Regions from separate parts of the Homo sapiens genome. Here region 1 is linked to region 2. The links come from fine-mapping of genetic effects on gene expression. Tissue or cell type: whole blood. Region 2 holds a variant in brackets; the other region holds the start of a gene. All regions are shown on one strand. Distances are from middle to middle.

The links. PIP is the estimated chance that this variant, and not a neighbour inherited with it, causes the effect.
Region 1: it holds the start of TPPP3, and the variant in region 2 is fine-mapped to the expression of TPPP3 in whole blood (TOPMed, PIP 0.96).

The regions. Positions count from the first base shown.
Region 1 is chr16:67,389,326-67,397,420 of GRCh38, reverse strand. It overlaps TPPP3 (tubulin polymerization promoting protein family member 3), which reads left to right and starts at 3,923. Exons shown (of 4, transcript NM_015964.4): 1 at 3,923-4,041; 2 at 6,304-6,497; 3 at 6,789-6,942; 4 at 7,059-7,612. The coding sequence starts at 6,310. The coding sequence ends at 7,247. It overlaps ZDHHC1 (zDHHC palmitoyltransferase 1), which reads left to right. Exons shown (of 12, transcript NM_001323627.2): 9 at 1,855-1,937; 10 at 2,141-2,234; 11 at 2,359-2,419; 12 at 2,528-3,269. The coding sequence ends at 2,811. It also overlaps the pseudogene RNU1-123P.
Region 2 is chr16:67,360,886-67,368,985 of GRCh38, reverse strand. LRRC36 (leucine rich repeat containing 36) reads right to left here. Exons shown (of 14, transcript NM_018296.6): 6 at 5,272-5,396; 7 at 3,631-3,682; 8 at 1,529-1,969. Among named protein-coding and RNA genes, the nearest start is that of TPPP3, 29 kb to the left of the region's middle. The variant AAGT/T (reference allele first, on the strand shown) is at 4,274.

The DNA.
Region 1 (8,095 bases), 28 kb before region 2:
CTGGGCCTGGGGCATGCTGGCTGTGGGTGGCGACTCCACTGTTACACCACCGTATACCTGCCCCAGTGCTGGGCTCTGATGGTGGCAGCTGTGCTGGGGAGAGGGTACTGTTTCCAGCCCCACATCAAGAGGAGACGGAGGCCCAGAGAAGTAGGCAGGAGACTTTCTCAAGCCTCATAGGCAGCACCCACTGAAGCAGGGCGGGCTCTTTGGCCCTGCGCTGCCAAGGCTTTGGGGCCAAATGTGGCCACAGCGAAGACATTTAATTTCTGTTCTGTCCATCTGCAGTGACTTGAGGGAGGCAAACCCGGGGGACAGGAGTGGTGTTCTTGTCCTCTTTTACAAAGCAGAGAGCTGAGGCTGAGGGCCCAGTACCATTCAGGAATGTACACGGTTTTGAAGGTCTCTGAGACAGTATCCTCTGGACAGCCATGGCGAGAGAGGACAGGGCTCTGAGTGGGGACTCACTGGGGACGCTTTCAGACTTCTTGAGCTGGCTAGGGCCTGGCGCCTTTCCCATCCAGGCCCCTCAGCTTCTGAGACCTCCTCTACTGCTGGCCCCTCCTCTGCTCCCCCCTCTGGAGCCCAGGGCCCCCCAGTGGGCTTTGCCCCTCTGCTGGCCCTAGAGGGTCACTGAGTCCACACTGGGGCAGAAAAGAGGTGTGGGGGAGAGTGATCTTGAGGTTTCCAGTCCCTGTGACTGGCCTCTGACCCCTGACCCCGCGCTCCTCGGCCCAGGCTGGCGCCCCCACACCCCTCTCCAGAGCAGCAGCCAGGGCAGAGGTTGGGCGGGGCCGCTGGCTGGGCTCCTCCCCCAGATCTGTCAGGGCCCTGCAGGCAGCCACCCACCCCCACCCCAGCAGGAATGCGGGAGGGGCCCCTCTCTGGAGCCGTTGCCCCCAAACATAGGCTTGTTTTAGAGACGGCCTTGCTGTTACAGTGTCCTCTCTGCATTAGTCAGGACGCCTCCGTCTCCATGGAAACGGCTGCTGAACTGGCGACAGCTGTCCGGGTGCTCCCGGCAACCCCTCCCGGCTCCCACCCCGCCCGGGACCCGCCCCCATCTCGCACCACGCCCTTCCCGGGCCTGCTTTCCCCAGGCTTTTGTTTCCTCACCTGGAGTCCTTCTGGGCAAAGCTGGGGCGAGTCCTGCGGGCGGGGGTGCAGGACTAGGCCACTCCTGCAACCCCCTGGCCTCAAGGCCCCTTTGCTCTCAGGGGTCGCGTCTGCACCCTCAGGGTTGCTGTGAAGATCAGGGCTTGCCCATAAGCCTGGTGCTCAGTGGGGCTGCGGCTCTGTTTGTTCCACCACCTGCTACCTTCCCTTTTGGTGTAGTGGCAGGGAGACCACCGCATGTGCATTTACGCAGCCCCTTCTCGGCAGCCTGGATCGTGGCTGGTCCTCTGTGAGGGCGAGGGGTGTGCCCAGGACTCAGCTCTGCGGGAGCTGGTGGATGCACACTCAGGCCTGTTTCTCAGCCAGGGGAAAACAATTGGTTCAGAGGCTGGATCCCTGGGGACACCAGGAGCAGGTGCGGGCAGCTCTGAGCTTCCCACCACTCCCTGGCTGAGCCTCTCTAAACTGGGCCTATAGACCCATGGGGGCTGGGAGCCTTCCTGCAGGAGGCAGAGGCTGAATAGATGAGGTAAGGACCTGGGGATGGGGCAAGGGCCAGAAATGGGTGTTTTAAGCCTTACCCTACAGATGGGGTTTTCCCAGCATGGCTGGGAGCCTGGCATGAGGCCTGAGATATCCCACAGAGGCCAATGAGGGCAGGACTGCGTGGGCTTAGGGCTCAGCAGGCTCGGGAGCCACACCTGGCCTCCCAGCCTCCTTGACTTCCACCTTCCCCAGGAGATGGAGTTCTACATGCGGACCTTCAGACATATGCGCCCAGAGCCCCCTGGCCAGGCCGGGCCAGCAGCAGTGAATGCCAAGTGAGTGCAACCTGGGCATGTGCCACTGGGCATCTCCAGTTAGCATGGCAGGGCCATCGAGGCAGGAGAAGGGGGTAGGCTAAGGTCGGGGCATGGGTCAGGCCCTTCTCTGAGCTAACAGGAAGGGAAGCTTCTCTCAGCACCTCCAGTGGGGAGGGATTTGGGGAACAGGCCCCAGGCTTACCCTCCTGCTTCCCCCTCAGTCCCTCCCAGTTTCTTGCCACCCGTGGCCAAGCGGAACCTCCACCACCCTCTTCCCCAGACACTCTCGCCCTGCCTCCCCGGATCCGACCCCAGGTAGGAGGGACTGTGCTGGGCCTCCGGTCCAGGTGGAGTGGGATAGAAAGAAGCCTCTACCCTGGCGCTCGCCTCTGCTTCTTTTGGCGATGTGGGGCCCTCAGGCTCCCCCGTGTCTCTGCAGAAAAAGAGGAAGAGGCGCGTGTATAAAGTGCGAACGTCTGAGACCTCGGATCCGGCGTCGGGTGAGCGCCTCTCCCTGTCCGGGTCCTGCTCTGGGAACTCGAGGGAGGGGAAGGCAGAGCCACAAGCGAGCCGCAGCCACTGGGCTCATGTTCCCTTCCCTTGCGCAGGGCCTAGGGCCCCCAGCCGCCGCTCCAGCTCGTCGACGGATTCCGCGGACGCCAGCCCTGTGCACGCCGCTGGCCCTGCCGGCGCCTACCACTCGGCGTCGGCAGAGTCCGTGGACGAGATTCCAGTGGCGCAGACGCGCCTGGGCAGCGCCGCTCTGGCCGCCCCGCGGGGCCGGGGCCGACAGCCCACGCTGGCGCGGCAGGCGCGTGCGCCCGCCGTTTTCGTGAGCCCGAGCAGCGGCGAGCCCAGGGCGCCGGGCGGCCGGGAGGCTGGTCTGGCTTAGCTGGGCCGAGAGGCCGGAGGGCCGAGTTAGAGCGGCCGGCCTGACTCTCTATGCAACACCCCATCCTTGCCGCACCGAGTGCACTTTAGGGGCCCCTACGGCCGGCGGGATCGGCCTCCCTCCCCCACGACTCAGCAATACCCGCCCCACCGGCTGTGATGCTCCAATAAACTTTTTTATGCTTTTGCGGACGTCGCGCTTACTTTCTTAATGGCAGGGGCCACGGGCCATCCAGAAGCCCGACCCTGGCCAGTGGACCGGGGGCGGGGAGGAGGTCCCTGTATAGTAGGTAGCCACCCAGGCTGCCCTGTGGAGGTGCTCACGTGCGGCTCGTGGTTAGGAAAGGCCTTAGAAGGCGGCCTGGAGGAGGTTATTTTTCTTAAAGATGGGCTTTGCACTGGGAGGCCGAGAGAAAGCAGGCTTTGGGCTCCGAAAGCAGCAGTGGGCGCTGAGGCTGCGAGGCCGTGGGGAGGTGGCGGCGAAAGGAGGGGGCCGAGCCAGGAGGTCCCGCAGCTTTTCCCCGGCAGCAGGGCTGCCGTCGAATGCCAGCATCCTGGGGCTGGGCGAGCGCGATTCGCTCGTAGGGAGTCCCCTCCCTTCTTCCCCACTGCTCCAGGCTCTGAATCCTACCCAAGAGAGCACGGGAGTTGTGGCCTGGGGGTGCCATCCGTTCAGTGGATGGCAGTGCTCTTGAGTCAACCGTATACCCCTGTCACTGAGGGAGAGCTCCTTCCCGATTCCCCAAGCCCCACCAATGCCCCGCGCAGCTCCCCAGTGGCCTCTGGTTGACTCTCTGGGGAGCTGGATCTCTTCTGGAGATTGGGGCCGCTTAGAGCTTTAGGCACATCCCAGGATGGGAGGCTGTTTCCTCAGGGGGCCGTCCGAAGACGCCCCGAACTGCAGAGCGCTGGTCTCGCCGTCGCGAGGACCGCGGAGTTGCGGGGGAGGGGCGGGATGCGGCTCCCGGAGAGTCTCGGGGAGGGCGGGGCCTCGTGGGCGGGGCCGGCGTGACCTTGGTCACTCTCCCGCCGAGACAGCCTCGGGGGTGGGACTCGCCGTCTCTATGGAGACCGAGAAACAGGGGATAATACGGCGGAGCCGCCTGGGCTGCAGTCCCACCCGGGAGCCGGCAGGGAGCGGAGCTGCGGAGCCGCCTGGTCTCCCGCGTCCATCGGTCCATTCCTGCGTCGTTCTGTCCTTCCGAACGCACACTTCAGGAGCAGCCGCGAGGTAGAAGCCCATAGGAGACCCAGATGCCCGCCACCCCAATCAGTATCCTGCACGATGAGGGTTGGGGGGAGCAGCCTGGAAAGGGTCCCAACCTCCGGCGGTCCCAGCCGAGGAGCCAGCTGAGCGGCCCTGCCCTGGCCCCAAGCATTCCACCTCGCAGCCCCCACCTCCTGGTCCGGCTGATTGATGACTCCAGCTGTCCCAGTGGGAGCGGGACGGGTGGCTCCAGTTCACGGGTGTGGCCACTCCATCCATGGCCTGCAGACCCATGGGGCTGCGGCCTGCAACCCAGCGCCACCTGACCGCGCTGAGATGACCAAGAATCCATCTTTCCACGGACAGGAGTGAGCACTGCACGCAGGATCCGCCCAGTGCTTGGGCCAAGCACCCTGTGGCATCCAAGCTCCCCTGGACGTTACCCTTGGTGAACCAAGTGCGGGTCTTGGGGTCCCTGGTGGGAGGTTGCACCCAGGGAAAGGGAAGGGGAGTGCAGCGTGGACTGGGGTTATGGTCCCTGTAACGTAGGAACCACCGGTGCTCACAGTCCCAGAAACTGCCACTTAGGGATGGGAGTGTGGTCACTGGCGAGGAGTTTTTGGTGGAAGATGGGGCAGCCGGGCAGAGCCCAGGCCGTGGTCACTGGAAGCCCTAGTGTAAAAGGCAGAGCTAGAAGATGGTTGCTGAGACCGAGGGTGTGGTCAGGAGGTGGCAGTGGAGGAGGGGGATGTGGTGGGGAGGTCTCTACGCAGGGGATCTCCGCATAGTACCTGGGAGTCTTATAATGTTAGTGTGTGGATGTGGACTGGGGCCTTCAGTGCAGGCTGAGGGTGTGGCCAGAGGGCTGAGGGTGTGTGGACAAAGGGGTGCTGAGGGTCAGGGCGCCTTGATAAAGGGCTGCGGGTATTGGAGGGGGTGAGTGGCTGAGGCTATGGTCAGGGGTCTCAGGAAGGGATGCAGGTTTGTGGCCAGGGGCCTCAGCCCCAGGGCTGCGGGTGTGGGGATGGAGAAGGCTGCTGTGTAGGCTCAGGGTGTGGCCAGGGGTCTGCAGCGGAGGGCTGTGGGTGTGGGGGGCACTTTAGTGCTGGACTGTGGGTATTACTGGGGTTGGCGCAGGCTTGTTAGTATATATGTGGGGGCTGGTGGCCGAGGGCTGTGGCTGTGGGTGTGAAGATGGAGGATGGAGGGCTGAAGGTATGGCCAGGGGTACAAGGCCCAGGGGGTGGCAGGCCAGGGCTGAGTGCACAGGGTCGCTGGGAATGTGGGCTGGTGTGGCCAAGTTCAGGGCGTGGCCAGGGGAGGTCTGAGGTGTAGACATGATGAAGTGTGTTTCAGCCACAGCCCCACTTGCCAGCACGACTCTTGGGGTTCGTAACTCTACAGCCCCCACGCTACTAGCCCCCAACCTCCTGCTCCCCCAAAACTCCACAGTGGGAGGTTACAGCACCAGTCGGTGGCAAGGGGCCAGGAAGCCACGGTTATGCCCTAGGCGCAGGGAGTGCTGGCGTGCCCCACCCGTGGGCCCCAGCTTCCCAGCCCAGCCCAGCCCCTCAGCACTGGGAGCTTCTCCCTGAGCTGCCCTGACACCATCCTGCCCTTAGCAACATTCTCCAAGCAGCACCACCCTCCCTTAGCAACCGTCTCCAGGCTTCACAAACTGTGGCCAGGCCAGCCCCAAGCTCCCCTCATGTTTTTGTTTAACAGCAAATAGTAACAAGGCCTTGCTGGACCAGCTGCACCCCTGCCCAGGGCATGCACCCGTGCCCAGACTGGCTCTTGCTGGGTCCTCATGACCCTTACAGAGATGCTGTCCTCACTGAATGCCTGCCCGACCAGCAGCCTGGCCTGGCCCCAAGCCAGCTTGGCATGGAGCTTCCAGGGAGGGGGCCTGCTCTGCCACCCTCACTTCCACCCAAGCAAGGCCTTGTGCCAGGGCCAGACAAAGCCAGGGCCCCAGCTGCTGCCCTAACAGTCTTTCTGGACAGTGCCACTCTGTTCCCTGTGGGCATCATTATTTCATCTGCTGAACCCTGCTGAGAGCCAGGGCTGGCATTAGTGACAAGACCGTGCCTCCCGGGGCTCTTCCTTGGGGCTCTGTGGCCCAGGGCGACAGTGACGGGCCCCTCTCCCCAGGCAGCTCCAGCACCAACTCTGTAGCAGAACCTGCCCAGGTCTTGCAGGTTTGAGGTAGAGGCTGGGATGTTCTGGGCTTGGGGGAGGGGAAGGGCAGATTGGCTGGGAGATGACCCAGGTGGGTCTCTATAGGGTGGCATGGCAGCGAGCACAGACATGGCTGGGCTGGAGGAGAGCTTCCGCAAGTTTGCCATCCATGGTGACCCCAAGGCCAGTGGGCAAGAGATGAATGGCAAGAACTGGGCCAAGCTGTGCAAGGACTGCAAGGTGGCTGACGGAAAGTCCGTGACAGGGACCGATGTGGACATCGTCTTCTCCAAAGTCAAGTGAGCCCTAAGCAGCCCCTGCTTCTCATGTTCCCAGGAGGTGGGGAACTGGGGGGCTGGAACCAGGGAGGACATCAAGAAGGGGTCAGGGAAACACCATGATCACGAAGGTCGTTCTTCCAGGGCAAACCTTATATCTATTGCCCTCCAGAGTTGCTGACCCCTGCGACTTCCCCAAACGTGGGAAAGAAACGCAATTGCATAATTTGTGGTGGCAGCAAATGTGTTTGAGCTTTCCCCTGGGGGAGAAAAAAGAAAGGGGAACCCTCATGGTGCCCACATGCCTGTCAGGGGGAAGTCTGCTCGGGTCATCAACTATGAGGAGTTCAAGAAGGCCCTGGAAGAGCTGGCGACCAAGAGATTCAAGGGGAAGAGCAAGGAGGAGGCCTTCGATGCCATCTGCCAGCTGGTGGCAGGCAAAGAGCCAGCCAATGTGGGCGTCACTGTAAGTGCCCTGCTGGTCTCGGGTGGCCACGGAATGGGGTGTGGGGAATCGTGGCTGTGGGTGGGAAGGGCTGGGCTCCCTCATCAGGTGCCCCTGGGGAAACTCTGTCCAAACAGAAAGCAAAAACAGGGGGTGCTGTAGACCGGCTGACGGACACCAGCAGATACACGGGCTCCCACAAGGAGCGCTTCGATGAGAGCGGCAAGGGCAAGGGCATTGCGGGACGGCAGGACATCCTGGACGACAGTGGCTACGTGAGCGCCTACAAGAATGCAGGCACCTACGATGCCAAGGTGAAGAAGTGAGGCTTGGGAAGACCGCCCTGCCAAGTGCGGCTGCCCCTGCCAGAGGCTCAGGCCTGGGTCTAAGGGGCACGTGGAGCAAGAGATCCTGGTCCCCTCCCTGCTGGACCTGCCACCCAGAGCTTCCTGCCTAGTCCCACTGGGCTGGCCCACCAGGCCTCTGACCCAGGCTGCTCTGCGGCCCCTTCCTCCTCCTCTTCCTGCTCCAACTTCTGTCCACCTGGGGACAGTCTGTGCCTGTAGCCTCATGACCCCAACCCAGCCCCAGGCATGGCTAACCCCTGACTGCTTGCCTCATATTTAAGCTGCTGCTCTGGCCAAGTGCCTAATTTTAACCCAGACCTCAATAAAGACACCTTTTGTACCAATATGGCCTGGTTGACGATGATGGGGGAATGACATTCACACTCCAGTGACCCCCTCAGTGTCATCACCCCGCTGCATGCCACACACTGCTAATCACTCCCCTTCCCCTGGCAGCCTTGCCCAGAAAAAGGCACTCATGAGTCCCCTTCTGTTAGCACAGAGCCATTCTGTCTGAGGAGACTCCTGGGGAAGTCCAAAGCCTTTTAGCTGGGCCTGACGGGAGTCCTGACATCAAAGCTTGCCTTCCTGTGACCAGTGCCTTGGGTTTGGAGAGTTGGCCCCCTCTCCACTTTCACAGCAGTAGGAGGGATGAAACAGCCGACTCAGCCTGGGCCAAGCATTGGCAGAGGCCCCAGAGCCAGGCATCAGCTTTCAGTCTGCGAACAGGGGCTACCGAGGCAAGTCATTTTGGGTTCTGGCTCAGAATACAGAAAACGCAGGGCCAGGCAGAACCTTAGAGAGTAGCTCATCCAGGCCGGGCGCGG
Region 2 (8,100 bases):
AAATCTCTACCTCCCATTCTTTTCCATCTTAGTAAATGAAAGCTCTGTTCTTCTAGTTATTCAGACTCAAAACCACAGAATTACCATTGACCCTCTTTCTCCCACACTTTATCCTGGATCCATCAGCAAACCATGGAGTGTCATCTTCAGAACATATTCAGAATCTGACTACTTCTCACCACCTCCACCGCTATCTGTCTAGCCCAAGCCATCATCATCTGTTACGCTGATTCCAATCTCTCCAAAGCATTTTAAAAAAATTTCTACCCTCCTCCCCATAGTCTATTCTCAGCCCAACATTCACAGTAATTCTTAAGTGAGATCACATCACTCCCTTGCTACAAACTCTCCAACTCCTTCTGATCTCACCCAGAAAAAAGTCTGGCATCTTTCTTACTTCATCTATACACTCTACTTTCTTTGCTGAGGCCGCACTGGCCTCCCTGAGGTTCCTTGTACATGAAAAGTATGTTCCAGCCTCAGGACTTTTGCATTTATTCCCACTGTCTAGAAAGTTCTCCTCCCAGACCCACATGGCTTATACTCCCACTTCATTCAAGTCTCTACTTTTATGGTGCCTCATCAGAGAAGCTTTCTGGACCATTCTATCTAAAGCATCGCCTCCTCCTTATCACGCTCTATGCCCTTATATAATTTTTTCACAGCATTTACCATAACCTGACATATATTTGCATGCTAAAATGTTTATCATGTGTCTTACCCCATGAGAATGTAAGCTCTATGAAAGTAGGGACTGTCTTCTTATTATGGTAAAATATACATGGAACTTTATTTTGGTTGCTACTTTATCTCCAGAGCTAGAACAGTGTCTGGGACACTGTAGGTGTTCAATGAGTTTGGTTGAATAAATAAGTAACAGAAGAGTGATCTCTGTCACTAACTCTGAAACTAACTTCTGTTTTTGTTTTCAAGATGGAGTCTTGCTCTGTTGCCCATGGAGTGCAGTGGCCCGATCTTGGCTTACTGCAACCTCTGCCTCCCAGGTTCAAGCAATTCTCCTGCCTCTCAGCCTCCTGAGTAGCTGGGATTACAGGCGCATGCCACCATGCTCAGCTATTTTGTGTGTGTGTATTTTTGGTAGAGACGGGGTTTCACCATGTTGGCCAGGCTGGTGTCGAACTCCTGACCTCGTGATCCACCCGGCTCAGCCTCCCAAAGTGCTGGGATTACAGGCATGAGCCACCGTGCCCAGCCTGAAACTAACTTCTTCTGAAAGTAAGTCAGAATAGAAGTGACTGTGAGTAAAGACTAGATGTCCTGGGATGCTGCTTAACTAAAATAGCAAGTAGCTGCAATGCTCACTTTCCTACAAATTTTCCCTAATATATATATCATGTTAAACTCATACCCTACAGATTTCTCGAGGTTCCAAGAACCACTGGTGACCCTAAAATACAACTTAAGAAATGCTAATACAATTTCAGAAGGGTTAATTCCAAAATTTTCACTTATATCTTCTATCTTCATGCCTATGAAGAAGACCTGTAAACTGACAGGAAGCTGTTACCTGAACTAAGCTTCAAAAGCCTTCCAGTGCTGGAGTCAGGGTTTGACAGAGAAGTTAATAAGTCTCCACAGGAATGTGAAGCGGTGGTCTTTATGTCATTTGAAGGCTTTATGCTATACTCTTGATAGTTCTTGCTTCTCTGAGGCCTTTTACCAAGACTTCCATGCAGGGATAGAGTTTGAGAATAACAACTGTCATAATTTTCCAGACCAACATCTGAAGGTAACTGATAGGGATGGATCTGGCTAGAATCACCCACATCCAGGCATTTACTCAATGAGGCATCATGGGTAAGATGAAAAGTATCAGGTTTTGGTATCAATTCCTTTTCTGGAGAAGAACCTGAAGACTTATTGTCCAAAAAAGATACTTGGTACCCTTCTCTAGTCATCTTCTCTGGGGATCGGACTGTGGACTGACGAGGCGAGTAGTGTCTGAACTCTAAACACCACCAAGGCAAAAAAACAAAACATGATAAGAATTCTTTGTGGCCTAGCTGGGAGTACCTCTGTTCACTGAACATATTCTCTGTCTGCCAGAAACACCTCTCAGGAAGAGGTGGTTTATAATTCTGATCAATGGTAGCATAAAGTGATGAAAGGACTTCCACATGGAACACCACCACCACCAATAAAATGTGGGACTTTTGTGTAAACAGTAAAGAATCTATAACATTCTGGAGACAAATTCTGTTTCTTTTTTTTTTTTGAGACAGGGTCTCACTCTGTCGCCCAGGCTGGAGTGCAGTGGCGCAATCTCAGCTCAGTGCAACCTTCGCTTCCCAGAGGGAAGCGATTCTCGTACCTCAGCCTCCCGAATAACTGGGATTACAGGCACATGCCACCATGCCCAGCTAGCTTTTGTATTTTTAGTAGAGATGGGGTTTCACCGTGTTGGCCAGGCTGGTCTCCAACTCCTGACCTCAAGTGATCCACCCGCCTCGGCCTCCCAAAGTGCTGAGATTATAGGCAAGCACCACCATGCCCGGCTAATTTTTGTATTTTTTGTAGAGATGGAGTTTCACCATGTTGGCCATGCTGGTCTCAAACTCCTGACCTCAGGTGATCCACCTGCCTCGGACTCCCAAAATGCTGGGATTACAGGCATGAGCCACTGTGCCTGGTCCGAAAAAAATTTTTTTAATTAGCCAGGTGTGGTGGTAGTCCTAACTACTTGGGAGGCTGAGGTGGGAGGATTGCTTGAGCCCAGAAGTTTGAGGTTATTATGAGCTCTGATTGTGCCACTGTACTGTACTCCAGCCTGGGCAACAGATTGAGAACTTGTCTCAAAAATAAAAAAAATTAAAAAAAAAGAGAGAAGGAAGTGGGAAGAGAGAGAGAGAACGAACTGCCTAGAAATCTACACCCATCTAAAATACCCTTCAAGAATGATAGTGAAATAGAGGCATTATCACACAAAGAAAAGCTGAAAGAGCTCATCACTAATAGACCTACATTAAAGTATGTGCCACTGTAAGGCAAAGGAAAATGATATCAGAAGGGAAGCCTGGGAAGAAAAAGGAAGTGAACAAACAGTAGTAAATTAATGGATAGATTTAAATCTACACTGACTATATAAAAAATAATATCTTGTGAAGTCTTTAAAAATATAGAGAATTAAAATTCATAATAACAACATATAAGTCAGGAAAGAGTAAATGAAATAAAGTACTGTACGGTTTTTGAATTATCCAAAAGAAGACTTAAGGTATTAACAATTTAAAAATTATGTAAGTTAAGGATACATATTATCATTTGGGGAATAATACTAAAAGTATAGAAAATGTATATAACTTATAAACCAGTAGAGAGAAACAAATGGATGAATAAAAAATAATAAATACAAAAGAAGGCAAGAAAGGTAACAAAAAGAATAGTCATCCAACGCAAAAAAAATCAAGAACAAAGGAGGTCAGAATATGCACTCTTTAAGCAGAAAAGTCTCACAGGTTACTAATCATCCAGGACAGTCCCTCACAAAAGCAGAAATTAGTTGACTAAATAGGGCCCCCATATTGAGACATCTTCATCTCCCAAATCCCATCACATCCAGACTTCTCTGATTAGTGTGGGGGAAAAATACTCAGTGAGCAAAATATTTACCATCTTCCTGGTGATTGTCACTTGGCATCTCCCTTCTTGCTACTTCCTGTGTCTAAAAAAAGTTCGAAAGTTTAGGTAGAAGGAAGTCCATGCGCGTTCAAATGTGAGCTTATTAGACTAGGGGTTCAGAATACCTTCCTATTAATGGGAAAGACTATCCTTGCAAGCTAGGGAAACAGACCTTTAAGCAAAGGTCCAGTTTAAGTCTATTTTAAAACAGTCACAATACAAGGAGATTCCAGAGTTGCTTGAATATCCTTAGGAAGTAAAGGACATAGCAAACAATGACTGTACTTTCTCTGCCTTAGATAGCTCATAGAAGGTAGATGAGGGCCACTTTCCAGCTTTGCTTTTTCTGTTTAAAGGACTCTCATGCTTATTTTACCAGCTGATAAAGCTATCAACCACCATAGCTAAGGGGGTTTTAATAGGCTGAAAATTAATCTGAGGCATAACTAGGCAAGGACTGAAGGAAAACAGAAAGCCATCTAGGGTTTGCTTTTAAAAAAATTATCTTAAAGTATTCAGTGTCTTTTTGGTAGTCATGGAGAGAAAGAAATCCCACTTCCTTATTTCTTAAACTAAAAAGATACAGCAAACTATTCAATTTCCTTTTTTCTCACTTCAAGAAGTAATTTCAGAG[AAGT/T]TTTTTTGTTTGCTTTTTTATCTAAGAAGTGCTATTTAACTGGAGATTGCAATACTCTTTGTCTCCATTTCCTTAAGTCAATATGGTTTTAAAAAATGGTAACTGAGATTGTTTCTAAGTCACCCAAGTATAATCTCCAAAAACAAAGAAACTGATTAAATGCTTATCTTTTTAAAAGATGAAGGTAGTCTATACCCAAACTGAAAAGAATAGTACTAACTTTTTACTAATTCAGTCTTGATTGTCCAAATTATGGATTAATCAGAGCCTTTGCTGCTTTTCTTTCTCCTCCTGGCTATTTTCTACAATTTTATTGCTCATAAATGTATCAAAGAAAAGGCACAGAAAGGGAGAAGGTGAATATAAAGTAGTCAGTTCTGCTCCTTGTATCATATTCACTCACACAAACAAGTCTTACATAATGGTTGCATCCCTTCTGTCACCAATTTTTTCACTAAAACCTTATTTTTCACTCCTCCCCCATCTTGCATGATCTCTATCTTCCCATTGCCCACAACTTCCATGCCATCTTTACCCCTTAAACTTTACTTTTTCTGTTATACTGCAGAGGCAGCTTTGGGAAAGTCATACCTAAAATGTAAGACTCAGTATTAAAGGGTGTAGGTAGAAAATGTAAGAAGCAAGGCAACAGGAGATGGAGATATTGGATAGAGGGGAGAAAATTTAAAACCAGCCAAAAACTGTAACAGTTGCATTCTTGTTTGAGGACCAAAATGCCTTTCATAGATATGCTAAAGTTATATGTATAAATATATGACATTAGATAACAGGTTAGTGTGAGAGAGAGGGAAATGGGAGATTGAAATTAATGGAGAAGGTACTCTGCATTCTGTCCTGCCCTTTCCTTTAAAAGGGTCTAAAATGCCTTCATCAAACAAGTCCTCTGAGACCTTCATAAATAATTGAGAGCCCACTGAATTATCAGTATTAATCATTGACTAGTCAACAGATCAGCAGGAGAGTGAATACATTACCTGTGTCCCCAGTGGGAAGGTGTCTAATTTCTGATCACGTGTACCATTGCCCTGAGTTGCAGAAGTACTTAGGGAATCCTTTATTTCCCGGTTGGGGAAGGGAATAAAAAGTCCTTTGTTTGAGTCTGTGTTAAAAGAAAAAGCAAACAATAAAGCACTCACTGACCAGACTTCAAAGGCAGCATGTCTAATGGATAGATACTAAAAGGAAAGTCACAAGATTGAGTGCTAGTTCTGGTGCCACCACTTGGAGACCACATGAATTTGAGCAAATCACTTAACCTCTCTACTTCTCTCACTTCGTTTGGAAAACAGAGATGATAAAATCTAAACTGCCTATCTGTTAGGGTTGAGCCAGGTTAAAACAGGATAATGGATATGAAATGGCTTCATAATTTATGAAGTGCTCAACAGAAACTGAGTGGAAGGCAAATATTTTGCACATTTCCTAAGCGAATAAATAATTAACTGTGATACCAATTCCATAATCTCCAACTACAGGGGGAGATGCTGGGAATAGACTCCTGGCATTATACATCTCCAGGGTACTAATCAGCAGTCAGCACTGATTGACCATTTCAAACTAGCCTTTTTCTGCCTTGCTTTCTCTCTTTTGTAAAAAGAGAAAACTAAGCTGGGCGTGGTGGCTCACGCCTGTAATCCCAGCACTTTGGGAGGCTGAGGTGGGCAGATCACTTGAGGTTAGGAGTTCGAGACCAGCCTGACCATCATGGTGAAACTCTGTCTCTACTAAAAATACAAAAATTAGCCGGGCCGGGAGTGGTGGCGCGCGCCTATAATCCCAGCTACTCAGGAGGCTAAGGCAGGAGAATTGCTTGAACCAGGGAGGTGGAGGTTGCAGTGAGCCACGACTGTGCCACTGCACTCCAGCCTGGGCGACACAGTGAGACTCTATCTCAATAAAACAACAACAACAACAACAACAAAAACAAAAAAAAGAGAGAGAAACCAGTCAGGACCTATTTCATGGAGAAGAATGCTAAATCCTTAGGTCTCCCAATGTATTTTTTACAGTTTATTTTGTTTTATTCAATTGTAACTAATGCTATTAGAGAGATTCTTGTTTTATCTTGTTTTTTGGTTACCACACAGAGAATGTGGAAGTATCATCCCCTGCTATTTATAAAATCCTTGTAAATTGATTAAATTAGTGATGGGGCTGGAAATATTCACCATGAGCTTAAATATATTTATTAGTAGTACTTTAGGCTCTGTATATATATTCAAACTTCTGGCCAGGCACGGTGACTCACATTTGTAGTCCCAGCACTTTGGGAGGCTGAGGCGGGCGGATGATGAGGTCAGGAGTTTGAGACCAGCCTGGCCAGCCTGGTGAAATCCCGTCTCTACTAAAAATACAAAAATTAGCTGGGCGTTATGGTGCACACCTGTAATCCCAGCTGCTCGCTAGGCTGAGGCAGGAGAACTGCTTGAACCCAGGAGGTAGAGGTTGCAGTGAGCCGAGATCGCGCCACAGCACTCCAGTCTGGGCGACAGAGCAAGACTCTTTCTCGGGAAGAAAAAACAAAACAAAACAAAACGTATTAGAACACTCTGTATGTTATTTTGTGTGAGATTTGTTTTTGTTTTTGTTTTTTTTAATTTTTACATTAAAAAAAAGTTTTAATAGAAATAGGGTATCCGTATGTTGCCCAGGCTGGTTTAGAACTCCTGGGCTCAAGCAATCTGCCAGCCTTGGCTTCCTAAAGTGTTGGGATTACACGCGTGAGCCACCAGGCCTGGTAAGATTTGTTTTATAGTTAAAGAAAAATAATTTTTTAAAAGTAAAGGAAATAGTGTTCCATTTTCATTAAAAAATACTGTTAGGGCCAGGCATGGTGGCTCATACCTATAATTTCAGCACTTTGGGAGGCCAAGGTGGGTGGATCACCTGAGGTCAGGAGTTCGAGACCAGCGTGGCCAACATGGTGAAACTCCGTCTCTACTAAAAATAAAAAAATCAGCCAGGCGTGGGCGCCTGTAATCCCAGCTACTCAAGAGGCTGAGGCAGGAGAATCGCTTGAACCCGGGAAGCAGAGGTTGCTGTGAGCTGAGATCGCACCATTGCACTCCAGCCTGGGTGACAGAGTGAGACTCCATTTCCAAAAGAAAAGAGAAAATCTCATTAGTATTTTGCAGTTCACCTTTCAAATTCTGATGTTAGTTTAATACATATATTCACAAAAAAGTGATAAATTTTAACTTTTTTTCCTGTATTATAATTTTATTTTTTTACCAATATTTTTACTGTGATTAGAAAAATTATTTTAAAAATAAAAAGTAAAAATAACAAAAACTGTAGCCCAGTTCTGGCCACTTTGGAAACTGTTATCAAGAAGAGCCTGTCAGCAATTCTATCAAAGGCCAGGCACAGTGGCTCGTGTCTGTAATCCCAACACTTTGGGAGGCCCAGGTGGGTGGATCACTTGAGCCCAGGAGTTCAACACCAGCCTGGGCAACATAGTGAGACCCCCATCTCTATTGAAAATACAAAAATGAGCCAGGCTTAGTGGCATGAGTCCCAGCTATTTGGGAGGCTGAGGTGGGAGGAACCCTTAACTTGGGAAGTCGAGACTGCAATGAACCAAGATTGTGCCACTGCACTCCAGCCTGAGTAACAGGAGTGAGACAAGAATGACAAGAAAGAGAGAACGATTCTATTAGGTTGTCATATTTGTACAAACGTTTTTCCACTCTTGATCAATACATTTATTAACGTATAATTCTGGGATTTGAGGTCTTCTGGGGGGACTTGAATGAAAACAAGAGTTTTGCTTTTGTTTAAGGAATTTTTTTCCAGCAGGATTA